Linked DNA regions of Homo sapiens: all the other regions are linked to region 2. Evidence: fine-mapped expression QTL. A gene starts in region 2. Each other region holds a variant in brackets. All regions are shown on one strand. Distances are between the middles of the regions.

What was found. PIP is the estimated chance that this variant, and not a neighbour inherited with it, causes the effect.
Region 1: its variant is fine-mapped to the expression of USP28 in whole blood (INTERVAL, PIP above 0.99).
Region 3: its variant is fine-mapped to the expression of USP28 in liver (GTEx, PIP above 0.99).

What each region holds. Positions count from the first base shown.
Region 1 is chr11:113,808,664-113,812,905 of GRCh38, forward strand. It overlaps USP28 (ubiquitin specific peptidase 28), which reads right to left. Exons shown (of 26, transcript NM_001346252.4): 16 at 3,613-3,841; 17 at 400-591. Among named protein-coding and RNA genes, the nearest start is that of CLDN25, 31 kb to the left of the region's middle. The variant T/C (reference allele first, on the strand shown) is at 1,920.
Region 2 is chr11:113,872,961-113,877,202 of GRCh38, forward strand. It overlaps USP28 (ubiquitin specific peptidase 28), which reads right to left and starts at 2,612. Exons shown (of 26, transcript NM_001346252.4): 1 at 2,485-2,612. The coding sequence starts at 2,541. RefSeq lists enhancers at 500-1,000, 2,587-2,881, 2,871-3,120, 3,171-3,832 and silencers at 2,311-2,670, 2,691-2,850.
Region 3 is chr11:112,903,286-112,907,527 of GRCh38, forward strand. No RefSeq gene overlaps it. Among named protein-coding and RNA genes, the nearest start is that of NCAM1, 56 kb to the right of the region's middle. The variant A/G (reference allele first, on the strand shown) is at 2,586.

The sequences.
Region 1 (4,242 bases), 64 kb before region 2:
GTAAAATTTAATGCACTCCCAACTTTGTCATATTTCTATCCATTAAGAAAACTTTCTACAAACAAGCATCTTTTAGGAAGATCACCTTTGGAGAATGGTTTTCATAAAGTCTACCTATTAACCCTATCATAGTTTCTCCCATAACCTGGGAAATAAGCAAAACTATATACACAGTGAAGGTCACAGGTAGTTAGTCTTTCTGATACTGCTTCTGTTCATCAGAAATCACATTCTAATGCCACAATTCATTCCATCAGGTTGTACCTGGCATACCAACTGTATATGAAATATACTGTGAAGACTGTGGCATCACCTAGCCAGCTGAAGGGTATAGGGCTGGCTAGGGGAGTACAGCATGAGATGTTACTGGATCACTGGCATAAATGCCTTCTCAGATACCTTGTGATGTAGAGTAGTCCTGTGATGAGGAGTTGGTGGAGGACTCCATTTGAGGGATTTTGCAAGACTGCTCTTCTTCCCACTCCTCTACTTCCTGCTCAAACCGCCAGTTATCCTCCTGAATGTAATGCTTGAGTTCCACAGATAGGGCTTCCACTTCTGACATTTGATCTGATTCAGTTGGGGCTGCCTCTGAGGAAAAGCAAAGATAGAGTTAAAAGGTCACAAGGAACGAAAACATCCTTTTTAGAAAAGAAGAAAGCAGGGTATTTCATCTTTATCTTACTCCTAACTAAAAATACATGCACATAGAATCCATCAGAAATGCAGGCTGAGTATCTCTTATCCAAAATGATTGGGACTAGAACTGTTTTGGACTTCAAATTTTTTTCATATTTTAGAAAATCTGCACAATTAGTTATAGTTGAGCATCCCAAATCCTAAAATCCAACATCTGAAATTCAAAATGCTCCAATGAGCATTCCCTTCCAGCATCATGTAATGAAAAAGGCTCATAAAGTTTTGTGGATTTTGGAGCATTTGGGATTTTGGATATTCACATGTGGGATGCTCAACCTGTATGGACAATGTAAGGGCAACAATTGATAACAGTGCCTGACATTTAGTAGGCACTCATTAAACATCTGCTAAGTGAATGAATAACACAGAGTTAAAGATATGGAAAGTGGGCCGGGTGCAGTGGCTCACGCCTGTAATCCCAGCACTTTGGGAGGCCAAGGCAGGCCAATCACTTGAGGTAGGAGTTCAAGACCAGCCTGGCCAACATGGTGAAACCCTGTCTCTACTAAAAAAAATACAAAAATTAGTCAAGCGTGGTGGCGCATGCCTGTAATCCCAGCTACTTAGAAGGCTGAAGTGGGAGAATCGCTTGAACCTGGGAGGAGGAGGTTGCAGTAAGCTGAGGTTGCGCCACTGCGCTCCAGCCTGGGAGACAGAGTGAGACTCCATCTCAAAAAAAAAAAAAAAAAAAAAAAGATTTGGAAACTGGTCACTGTCAATCACTGGATATACCAATCATTTCAGGGAAATTCAGAAAATCATTAGAGCCAATAAAAATTTCAAGATAAACAGTTTTATCCATTTAACCACTGCATTTGGCGGATAAGAATGTCCATTTCAAAAAGGTTAGAGATGAATTTCAAGACATTTATACCACCAACTTTCATACAATTCAGTACTATGAGAAAGCAATTTGATACAATGGTGAAATGGTCAATAATACCTGGCTTTAATGGCAAGGATATCAATGACATATAAAATTTCATTTTCTAACCCTGTGACCAAAACAAACAAAAAAAGTCTATAGCAGATTAACACATTCACTTACTGGTTGCCATTAATCAGCCTTTTCACTAAGCAAATGACAGTTTCCACTTGTTTGTTTCTATAATAGAAAAATAAACCATGCATGCAATAACAAGGCTCCTATATATTAACAACAGCTAGTACATTCAAGCAGCTATTCATTCCTTCGCAGCATAAATATACAATTGTGAAGA[T/C]TACTTACTGTTCATTTATCATTCTCTCCATTCCCTAATCCCCAACCACACTAGCAAATCAGAAAGATAACGTGCTGCCTGGACAGAACACCTTACATGTTTGTTTTTTTTGAGACAAAGTCTCACTCTGTTGCCCAGGCTGGGTGCAGTGGCACGATCTCAGCTCACTGCAACCTTTGCCTCCCAGGTTCAAGCAATTCTCCTGCCTCAGCCTCCCAAGTAGGTGGGATTACAGGTGTGTGCCACCATGCCCAGCTAATTTATGTATTTTTAGTAGACACAGGGTTTTACCATGTTGGCCAGGTTGGTCTTCAACTCCTGGCCTCAAGTGATCCGCCCGCCTTGGCCTCCCAAAGTGCTGGGATTACAGGCGTGAACCACCATGCCGGGGCGATGTTTCCTTACTTACGCCACACAGTAAAGTTTGAATACTACAGGCAAAAGCTTTCTACTATCTTACTTATAAAATGTTCATCATAAGACCTCTCATAGAGGATGTGAAAGAAAGAGAGAATAATGTAAATTGAAAACACCACAGAATTTGGAGAATTGTATTTGAATCTTGGGACTGCCATTTATTGACTATGTGATTACTCAACTTTAGAACCCTTTGGAATCTGTTATCCAGCTGGAAAATGAAGATGACAACATTTTCAAACTCTTTCCCTCCTTTTCACAGCTGTAAGTTCTTAGAGAAATAAAAGTTTGAAAGCATGCTTTAAGAAGTAAAGTACCAATATAAATGATAATTATTATTGCTCTCTGTATGAGTAGTAGTATTACAACAACTGTGAAACTATTCAGGCAAATACACCTGTAAAATTTAGTTATTCTGGGCCCCACAACTGTAATCCCAGCACTTTGAGAGGCCGAAGCAGGCAGATCACCTGAGGTGAGGAGTTCAAAAACACCCTGGCCAAGATGGTGAAACACCGTTTCTACTAAAAATACAAAAATCAGCTGGGCATGGTGGTGGGCACCTGTAATTCCAGCTGCTTGCGAGAGTGAGGCAGGAGAATCACTTCAACCTGGCAGGCGGAGGTTGCAGTGAGCTGAGATTGCGCCACTGCACTCCAGCCTGGGCGACAAAGCAAGACTATGTCTCAAAAAAAAAAGAAAGAAAAAATTTAGTTATTCTCCAAAGGGTGCAAAAATATATGTACTATCAGCACCATAAGATGGGGCAAGAAAAAAAAAAGATGTCACTAAAAACAACAACAACTAGAGAATTAGTCTATCTACGAGTAAATTTTAAAAATACGTATATTCCACACAATGAATTACTATATAGTTGTTAAACAGTTAAGATTCTTTTACTAAAAATATAGAGATTGCTAAATACTCGATTAATGAAAAAGGTTCAGAGTTGAATGGAAAAATAATCTACTTGGGGAAAAGGGGGAGGGGAAGATACAGATAAATAGAATCTAGCATATGTATACAATGTGTCTTGAAGACTACATAAGAAACCTAACATTGTGTACTTGTTGGGAGTGGGACCCATGGTCAAGGAAGAAAGTAGTAAAGCAAACTTGTTTTTCCTTTTCATTTCCTTTTATACTGTCTATATTTTTTAAATCTATTATTATATAATAGTAAGTTGTAAATTTTTTAAAAAGCAGTACAAGACTGTTCTTCTCCCTGAGCAGTACAGATTTTCCCCAATCTATAGATTCTGCCAAGATACTTTTACCTGCATTGAAGTAGGGTAGTTTGTCATTAATGTACATCAGACAGTAAGCACTAACATTTCTCAGGCCTCCATAGGAATCTCTTTCAACTTCTTCCCAGGAAGATTCAGTAACAGAGATGTCATTGTACTTGAGCCAGCTCTGTCGGGGTTGATTATAGATATAGGCCCAATAGTGTCCAGCATTTGCTTGTCCTTCATGAACAAGAACTGCATGCAAGCGATAAGGCACCTGTAAGTCAGAATGTACATTCCCCAGTCAGGTGAAGCAAAGTAATCTGATAAAGTTTAGGTTATTAAGAAATTACTGTTTATGATGTGATTAATGTGGGGTTCATATTAAAACATCTTGTTGATTCAAGATGAAGTCCACAAAAACACAGCCTTGGAATTGATCAATTATGTCTCAGTTCCAAAACCTTGAAAACCAGATCGCTGAACTACATGACCTCTCTGAAGACTCTTTCAACTCTAAACTCCTCAGATCTAAAACCAAACATAACCTAAACATATGCATCCTTCTAATTCAAAACTCTGTTTATCTAAAAATAGAATCACCTTGACCACTCATGCTGAAAATGCTTAGCATATTTGGGACCTACAAAGGTTAGCAGCTATTTTGTTCCATGCCTA
Region 2 (4,242 bases):
ACTAAAATTCTTGGGAGGCCATAAAGGGTTTTGTCTGTCCTGTGTACAACTGACCAATAAGGGAAGGGAAGCAGTCTAGGCTTTAAATAGCTTCTGAGTGTCAGGGAAGGATAGCTCTCCTCAACTAGAACAATGAAATATCCTTTAAGGGAAAGGTAGAATGCCTCAGAGAGTTCAAAATAAAAGAATCCATTCTAACATGAAACTTACCAAGATGAGGAAGAAGTTATTAAAATCTTTCCTGTAAGATCAAAAGGTACTTTTCCTGTAAGTTCCTTCAACCTATCCTGGTAACTTGAAGCATTTTATTAGCAAAAATAAAAGGGGCAAACATTATCAAGCATTCCAAGCTTATCAGCTTTCCGTATAGGGCAAATCACTGGGAAGAACAGTAAATGTCATCACTCTGCAGGTGGCCAGGAATCGGAGTACTCCAGCCAGCCACAGCCACTGGAGTTCCAAGCCTTCCCAAAATAGCTATGACTTACATACAAATGCTCATCAAGTAGCTCACACACAGTCTCAAACGGAGAATGCTGAAATAGGGTCACTACTCAAACTGCGGCAGAGGTAAATGAAGATGCCACTGATTAATAGGCACATGGTCTTAAATGACTGAGCCACGACAAATTTAAATATGACTTCTCTCTCCCTTAAAATAGTCTCTTCTCTAAATCAATATGATAGTCTCCAAACTAAAATTTTCCCATGTTTTTAAATCACTGTGCTAAAAACAAATAGAACTGACCTCTGAAGCCAGAGAAAAATCTTGACACATTTCAATAGGCACTTGTGAACATCTAACAATATTTCCATTAGAAGTCAGTGCATGATACTTTCGTTTCGGAGCCCAGGACCTGGAAGTATCTTTTTCTACATGAGTTTTAAAAAGCGCATCCAGGCTGGGCGCCCTGGTTCACGCCTGTAATCCCAGCACTTTGGGAGGCCGAGGCGGGCGGATCATGAGGTCAAGAGACCGAGACCATCCTGGCCAACACAGTGAAATCCCATCTCTACTAAAAATACAAAAATTAGCTGGGCGTGGTGGCACGCGCCTGTAGTCCCAGCTACTCGGGAGGCTGAGGCAGGAGAATCGCTTGAACCCGGGAGACGGAAGTTGCAGTGAGCCGAGATCGCGCCACTGCACCCCAGCCTGGGCGACAAAGTGAGACTCCGTCTGGAAAAAAAAAAAAAAAAAAAGTGCGTCCAGACTGGGCGCGGTGGCTCACGCCTGTAATCCCAGCACTCTGGAAGGCCGAGGCGGGCGAATCACCTTAAGTCGGGAGTTTGAGACCAGCCTGACCAATATGGTGAAACCCCGACTCTACTAAAAATACAAAAATTAGCCGGGCCGGTGGCAAGCACCTGTAATACCAGCTACTCAGGAGGGTGAGGCGGAGGATGCAGTGAGCCGACATCGCGCCACAGCACTCCAGCCTAGGCAACAGAGGGAGACTCTGTCGAAAAAAAAAAAAAAAAAAAAAAAAAAGTGTCTCCATGCTAAATACTACTGGCCTTCCAGACAAAAGAGTAAAAAGGTATAAAAGGATTCTCACCTGAGGGTATCTGTCTGCCAGCTTTGTACGACAAATATAGTTTCTCATCTCCAAACTCGTATTTGAACAACTGGCACAGATTTCCCGTTTTCTCTTGAAAAAGTGCAGTACTTGAGGGGTGAGGAGGTGGTGTTAAGTTATAACATTCCGAAGTAACACTAGAAGACATGCTCAAATTGCCCTCTTCCCAAGTTTCTTCATACAGACATTAGCTTTTCTCTCAAACCAGGGTTCTTTCACTCTCACCAGATTCTTAGATCAGAAGTCCTTATATTGATTTCAATCTTCTTAGACATTGGGAACAGGAGATCATCATCAGTAGACTTTCTATTCATCACGCAGCTCCTCCCCCTCCTTAAAAATCTAGAGCGATGAAGGCAATAATTGGGGAGGCTGCGCTGTTTTGTTTTTAAAGCCGGGTTGGGAGGGAGGGAAGTGGTGGTAACTGGGACCCCTGGTCTTATAGAAGACGGTGATTAATTCCGGACTTTAAGTGAGATAACTTCGGTCTGCTTTAACCTTTTAAAAACGCCGCCATAAAACTGATTTAAAAGTCAAAGCAAAACAAAACCAACCAACGCTGCCGCTTTCGGAAGTTTCTCACCCCGGACGGGGCCCAGGAGGGCTCACCTTACTGATCCCTGCGGCGGAGAACCCCACGTCCAGCCCTTTATATTTGGTTTTCCAAAATCTGGAAATCCCCCTACAACTTCAGCTCGCCCACGGACGCGAAGATGCAGTCCTCAATCTCCGCGGCCCGAGCCCCGCAGAGCCCTTGGCCTTCTCACCCACGCTGGCGGGCGCACCCCCTGTCCCGCCCGGCCGGGGCGCCCTCCGCAGCCCGCAACCCGCAGCCCTGCAGGCCCCGCACGCTCCCCTCAGGGCCTGGAGCCCGCCCCCAGCTCCCGCTCGCCGCCGCGGAGCCCACCGAGCCGTGGCCGTCTGCCGCGCCGGCCGCGTCGTCCTGCTGCAGCTCCGCAGTCATGGCCGAGGCGCCCAGCCGCGGGTCACCGGTCTCCCGCCGCAGCCGCCGCCGGCCCAGCCTCTCAGGACTAGGCCCCGCCCCCGCCCTCCACCCCGCTCCGTCCCGCCCCCGCCCGCAGCGCGCGCCGGAGGCTTGGCCCACATGCCCCGCCCCCGGCATGCGCGCGCACGCAAGGCGCGCGGCCCGGGGCCGAACAGTTCTGCGTGCTCCCGCGCACGCCCGGCTGACCAGACGTCGGTCACGTGATCCCGGCCCCGCCTGTCGCTGTTGGTCAGCTTCACAGCCGGTGGAGGCTGCGGGCCGCGCTGCCAGTGTCCGGGAACTGGGTTTGCGAATCCTGGGAGCCGCGTTCCTGAGTCTTCTCCGCTCTCTGCCCTCAAAACCTCATTTGTAGGACTGACCTCCGGCTCCACCCTCCCCACGGGCGAGTTAAAACTGTTCCCCCGCCGTGGGAAACTGCCGAATGACCGTGGAATAAAGGATTTCCCATCAGGCTTTGTAGCCATTTCCAACTCCAATGACATGAAGAAGTGTTCACCATCTTTAAGGAGAGAAGGAGGATGAATGCAGTCGCTTGTCTAAAGCTAACCAAACGGACCAAAGCCTCCGTTCATGGGTGTCCCGCTTGGTGCCCTTAACCCTGATGCTCTTAACCTGGGCATGATAAGGAAAATTGCAGTTTTTCCATTTTCGATTTTCAGAAGTTCAAACTAAAATTTTGTGTTACTTTGTTACGTTTGAGCCAGATATTTACGATTTCATGTTAAAAGACCAGGTGCTCCTATTGAATTGTTTTTTGTTTGGTTGGTTTCGGTTTGTTTTTTTTTTTTTCTTTTTTTTTGAGACGGAGTCTCACTCTGTCCCCTCAAGCTGGAGTGCAGCCGCACGGTCTCGGCTCACTGCAACTTCCGCCTCCTGGGTTCAAGCGATTCTCCTGAGTAGCTGGGATTACAGGCACGCTGTACCACACCCAGGGTTTCACCATGTTGCCCAGGCTGGCCTCGAATTCCTGACCTCAGGTGATCCGCCCGTCTCGGCCTTCCATAATGCTGGGATTATAGGCGTGAGCCACCGCGCCAGGCCTGAATTGTATTTTCAACAACTGTGTGGGAATTGTGATTACTGAACCATGTTTCACATTTAAGATACAAATGTGTTATGATGGCAAACCCACTTGACAGGCTGCTGGGTGTCCCAAATCTGCGTAGAGGCTGAGTGTGGAAGCGCGTCTTTTAAGAGTAGCACCTACACCCTTGCCCTGGTCTGGTCTGACTCTCAAGCTACACTTTTAAGTGTGAATTTAACATGGACGGTGGCCTTTCCTATACTCCTGGCATTGTTGTCGCTGGGATTGTTATGTTTCACCTGCAGGCCTCCCTAGTCTGCATGCGGGCGCAGTTTTTGACAAAAGGAAACAGGTACAGGTCAGGTGCAGCTCCCAGGAGAGGCCAGATTACTCTCTGAGGCCTGAACTAGGACTCCTGCAACTTCCACCACCTGGAGATACAGGGATCCGCTTCCCCTGGCAGATTAACTGGCAGATTGGCATGGCTGCGGTGATACTAACTTGGAATCTTCCACATTCAACAGGCTGACTGTGTTTGTGTCTGCGAGTAGTAGGACATTTTATGTATGTGGCTCTGCCATTTTTCCTTTCCTCATGAGTGACTGTGTTTATGGCCTCAACCTGGGTGTCACTGT
Region 3 (4,242 bases), 970 kb before region 2:
AATAGAGCTCAGAGTGAAGGGAATGAAAATCACAAATTAGATTCATTTGTTGTGCTAGATAGGGAAGTTTCCAATCTTCATTCAATTTGTGACATAGAGAATCAAGCAATGGTTCTGGAGCCTGCCTTCTGAAGAGGAGGCTTGGGGGAGGCTCAGTCATTTTCGTGTTTGCTTGTTTTCTCTGTCCAGTCATGTGAAAAAAGTTGGCTGGGAGGTTTTTTCTTTATTATTGTTGTCTATGACACAATCGCTACATTATACTGGAGCCTTTTGAAAAGCCGGTGTACAGCTCAACTGCCCCATTACCATTGTGCTTGAATGGAACACGATGTAGCCTTAGGGAAGCCCAGGATTCTCTACAGTGGCATGGGAGAGGGGCTGCTGTCTTCAGAATTTTCAGAGAATATGCCAAAACCTGTACAGGCAACACGGAATTCTCAAGGGCCTCTGTCCTGTTTTTTATGCAAAGGATGAATCTCAGCTCTTGAAAATGCTGCTTTTGAAATCATGTAAATGATTACAGGCACCCTGACTTACAATGGTTCAATTTACATTTTTTTTTACTTTACCATGGTGCAAAAGCGCTATGCTTCCAGTACAAACCATACTTTGAGTACCCGTACAACCATTTTGTTTTTCACTTTTAGTAGAGTACTTAATAACATAAGATATTCAGCCAGGCACAGTGGCTCACGCCTATAATCCCAGCACTTTGGGAGGCCGAGGCAGGTGGATCACCTGAGGTCAGGAGTTCGAGAGCAGCCTGGCCAACATAGTGAAATCTCCTCTCTACTAAAAATACAAAAATTAGGCACACATGGTGGCAGGCGCCTATAATCCCAGCTATTCCGGAGGCTGAGGCAGGGGAATTGCTTAAACCTGGGAGGCAGAGGTTGCAGTGAGCCGATATTGTGCCACTGCACTCCAGCATGGGCAACAAGAGCGAAACTCTGTCTCAAAAAAAAATTGTTTAAATCATGAGATATTCAACTCTTTATTATAAAATAGGCTTTAGGTTAGATGATTTTGCCCGACTGTAGGCTACTGTAAGTGTTCTGAGCATGTTTAAGGTAGGCTAGGCTAAGCTATGATGTTTGGCAGGTTAGGTGTATTAAATGCATTTTTGAAGCAATGATATTTTCAACTTGTCAATTGGTTTACCAGGACATAACTCCATCATAAGTCAGGGAGTATCTGTACACCCTGGGAAATAGTGACCCAAGAAGTTTGTCTTCTGATACATTTCTAGAACTGAAATAACAAAGGTGAGGATGTTACACCCCAAATGGAGTTCCTCTCTGCCCAAATCTTGATAATCTTGATGTCATGGACAGAGCACAGCCTTCCAAACCAAAAAGTTCTGGCTTAACTCTTGCCCATGACACTGGCCAGCTGTACTGCAGAGCTTTCCTGGCCCTGCTTACTCATCTATAAGATGGGGGAAAATAGGGCATAGCTCACAAGTGGTGAAAAGAATGATAGAAAACAATTCAAATGAATTTTCATTAACAAATCTTTCTTGAGTGCTTACCATGCATCAGGCACCAGGCACTGTTCTAGATACATAGGATAGAGCAACAGTGAGCAAAACTGATTGTGGCCAGGTGCAGTGGTTCATGCCTGTAATTCCAGCACTTTGGGAGACTGAGGCAAGAGGATTGCTTTACCCCAGGGATTTGAGACCAGCTTGGGCAACATAGCAAGACTTCATTGCTACAAAAATCAAAAAACAAAAAATTAGCTGGGTTTGGTGGTGTGCGCCTGTAGTCCCAGCTACTCAGGAGGCTGAGGTAGGAGGATCACTTGAGCCTGGGAGATGTAGGTTGCAGTGAGCTGAGATTGTGCCACTGCACTACAGCCTAGGCAACAGAGCCAGACCCTATCTCAAGGCCAAAAAAAAAAAAAAAGAAAGAAAGAAAACTAATGCATGCAAACTGCTTAGCACAGTGCCTGATCACTGAAATGACCAACATACAGGTCTGAGCCCTCATGTCAGACTAATGCTTTGCTTCTAGAAAGTCTGGTCTAAATCCATGATCTATCTCTGAAATCATTAGACTCAGCCATCAAAACTTATTGAAAGCAATATAACTACAGGACTAAACCAAGATTGCGGTGCCTTATAGGAGTCTCTAAACTTTTCTGCTCCTTTGGGATGAATAGTAGGCAGAAACCATAGCCCATCTTGCTGAAAGATGGGTTGCGTTATTGGGGTGTATGGGTTGCAGGCAATGCCACCCCTAGGCATGATGAATCAAGGTGTTTGGGACTCCACCAGTAAAAGGAGCTAAGCATTGCTGAGTAATAATAGTGGAGGTCATCATCTAAGAGGGAAAGAGGTGAACTACATCTGTTCATAGGTGTATAGAAATCAGGCTGTGACTCATCTTCCTTAGTACCATTGAGCCAGTCACAAGAGGTAGGTCGTTCCAACACACACACAGCACACTTTGTATTTATGTTCCAAGCACTGTTCTAGATCCCAGGGATACGGCAATCACATAAACTCTCTTTCACACCCTTGATATATTTATGGGCTAGAACAGGGTCTACAACCTTTTTCTGTAAAGGGCCAGGTAATAAAT[A/G]CTTTAGGATTTATGAGCTACCCCATCGTTGTTGGACTTCCTCAACTCCATTCTTGTGTAGGGAAAAATGCCAGCCCTATATACTGTGTAAGTGATTGTGCATGGCTGTCATCCAATTAAACTTTCTTTACAAAAACAGGTGGCAGGCCAGATTTGGCCAGCAGGCTTTAGTTTACTGACCCTTGATCAAGAGAGGAAGACAAATATGTTACCAGATAAGGACAACAAAATGTGAAAAATGCTATGATAGGGATAAGCAGGGAATGGGTACTGCTATGGTCTGAATGTTTTTGCTCCTCCTCCAAATTCATATGTTTAAACTTTATTACCATGGCAGCAGTATTAAGAAGTGGGGCCTTTGTGGGGTGATTAGGTTATGAGGGTTCTGTCCTCATGAATGAGATTAGTGACCTTATAAAATAGGCCTGAGGAACCTGTTTGGCCCTTCCAACCTTCTACCACGTGAAGACAAAAAATTTGCCCCTTGCATCATATGAATACTCAGCAAGAAGGTGCCATCTAGGAAGCAAAGAAGAGGGCTTCACCAAATACTGAATCTGCAGGCCTTTGATCTTAGACTTCCCAGCCTCCAGAACTGTGAGCAATAAATTTGTTGTTTATAAATTACCCAGTCTAAGGTATTTTGTTTTAACAGCACAAATGGACTAAGAAAGGTACCTAACCTGCCTGGGGGTTTCAGGTAAGCCTTCCTGTTGAGGAGCTGGTCTTGCAATTGAGTGTGGGGAGGGGGGGATGTTTCTCATTTCTTTGCCCTCTCTGAAAGAGCAGACCCTCTGAGGACCACTACTTTTCAGTTTGGAAGACTATTGCAAAAGTCAGGGGAGAGAATATGAAGACCTGAATTGGAGCAATAATTTTAGGAATGGAGCAGAGGGGAAGATTTCAGGACTATACTATTTTACAGGTAAAATGGACAGGTCATGGTGATAGAATATGGGGAAGGAGGAAATTGAAGTGTGTCAAGAGTGGTTACCACGTTTCTGACTAGGGTGGTTGGGCAATTTTCATCAAGGCAGGGAATTCGGAAGAAGCATGATTTTGAGGTAAGAGGATAAGGTTTTATTTCTTTGCAGAAAACCGAAGTGGACGAGTCCAACAGGTGGCTAGATATCCCTGAGTCCTGATGCTGTCAACCCAGCTATTAGTAGAAACTCCTAACTGGCCTCCCTGTCCCCTGTCTTGCCCCCCTTATATCAACCCATCCTCACTCAGCTGCCATGATGTTCAATCTGAAACACCAATCTGACTGTTATTCCCCAGTTAAATATTCTTCAATGATTGTCCATCCTCTATAGGATAAAAATTTGATGTGTTACCTTGCCATGGATGGTTCTCTAAAGCTGGCCCCTGCCAACCTCTTCAGCCTCATCTATCACTGCCTGCTTCCCCTGAGCTCCTCCGCAAGAAGTCAGAGCCGAGCCCAGGCCCAGGCGAGGGGTTTGATGATTCAGTGCAAATAAGGAGTGCTAAGTCTGTGCCTTTGGAAATTGGACCCTTTCAACATGAGCAGAATTAGAAATGCTTATCCTCAGTTGCAGAAATAGAATTTCAGTTTCAGCCCAGGAATCCTCAGCAAGGCTATAAAACTCAGACTGGCAAACAGGTTATTACAGTCAAGCCCCGTCACCAACATGCC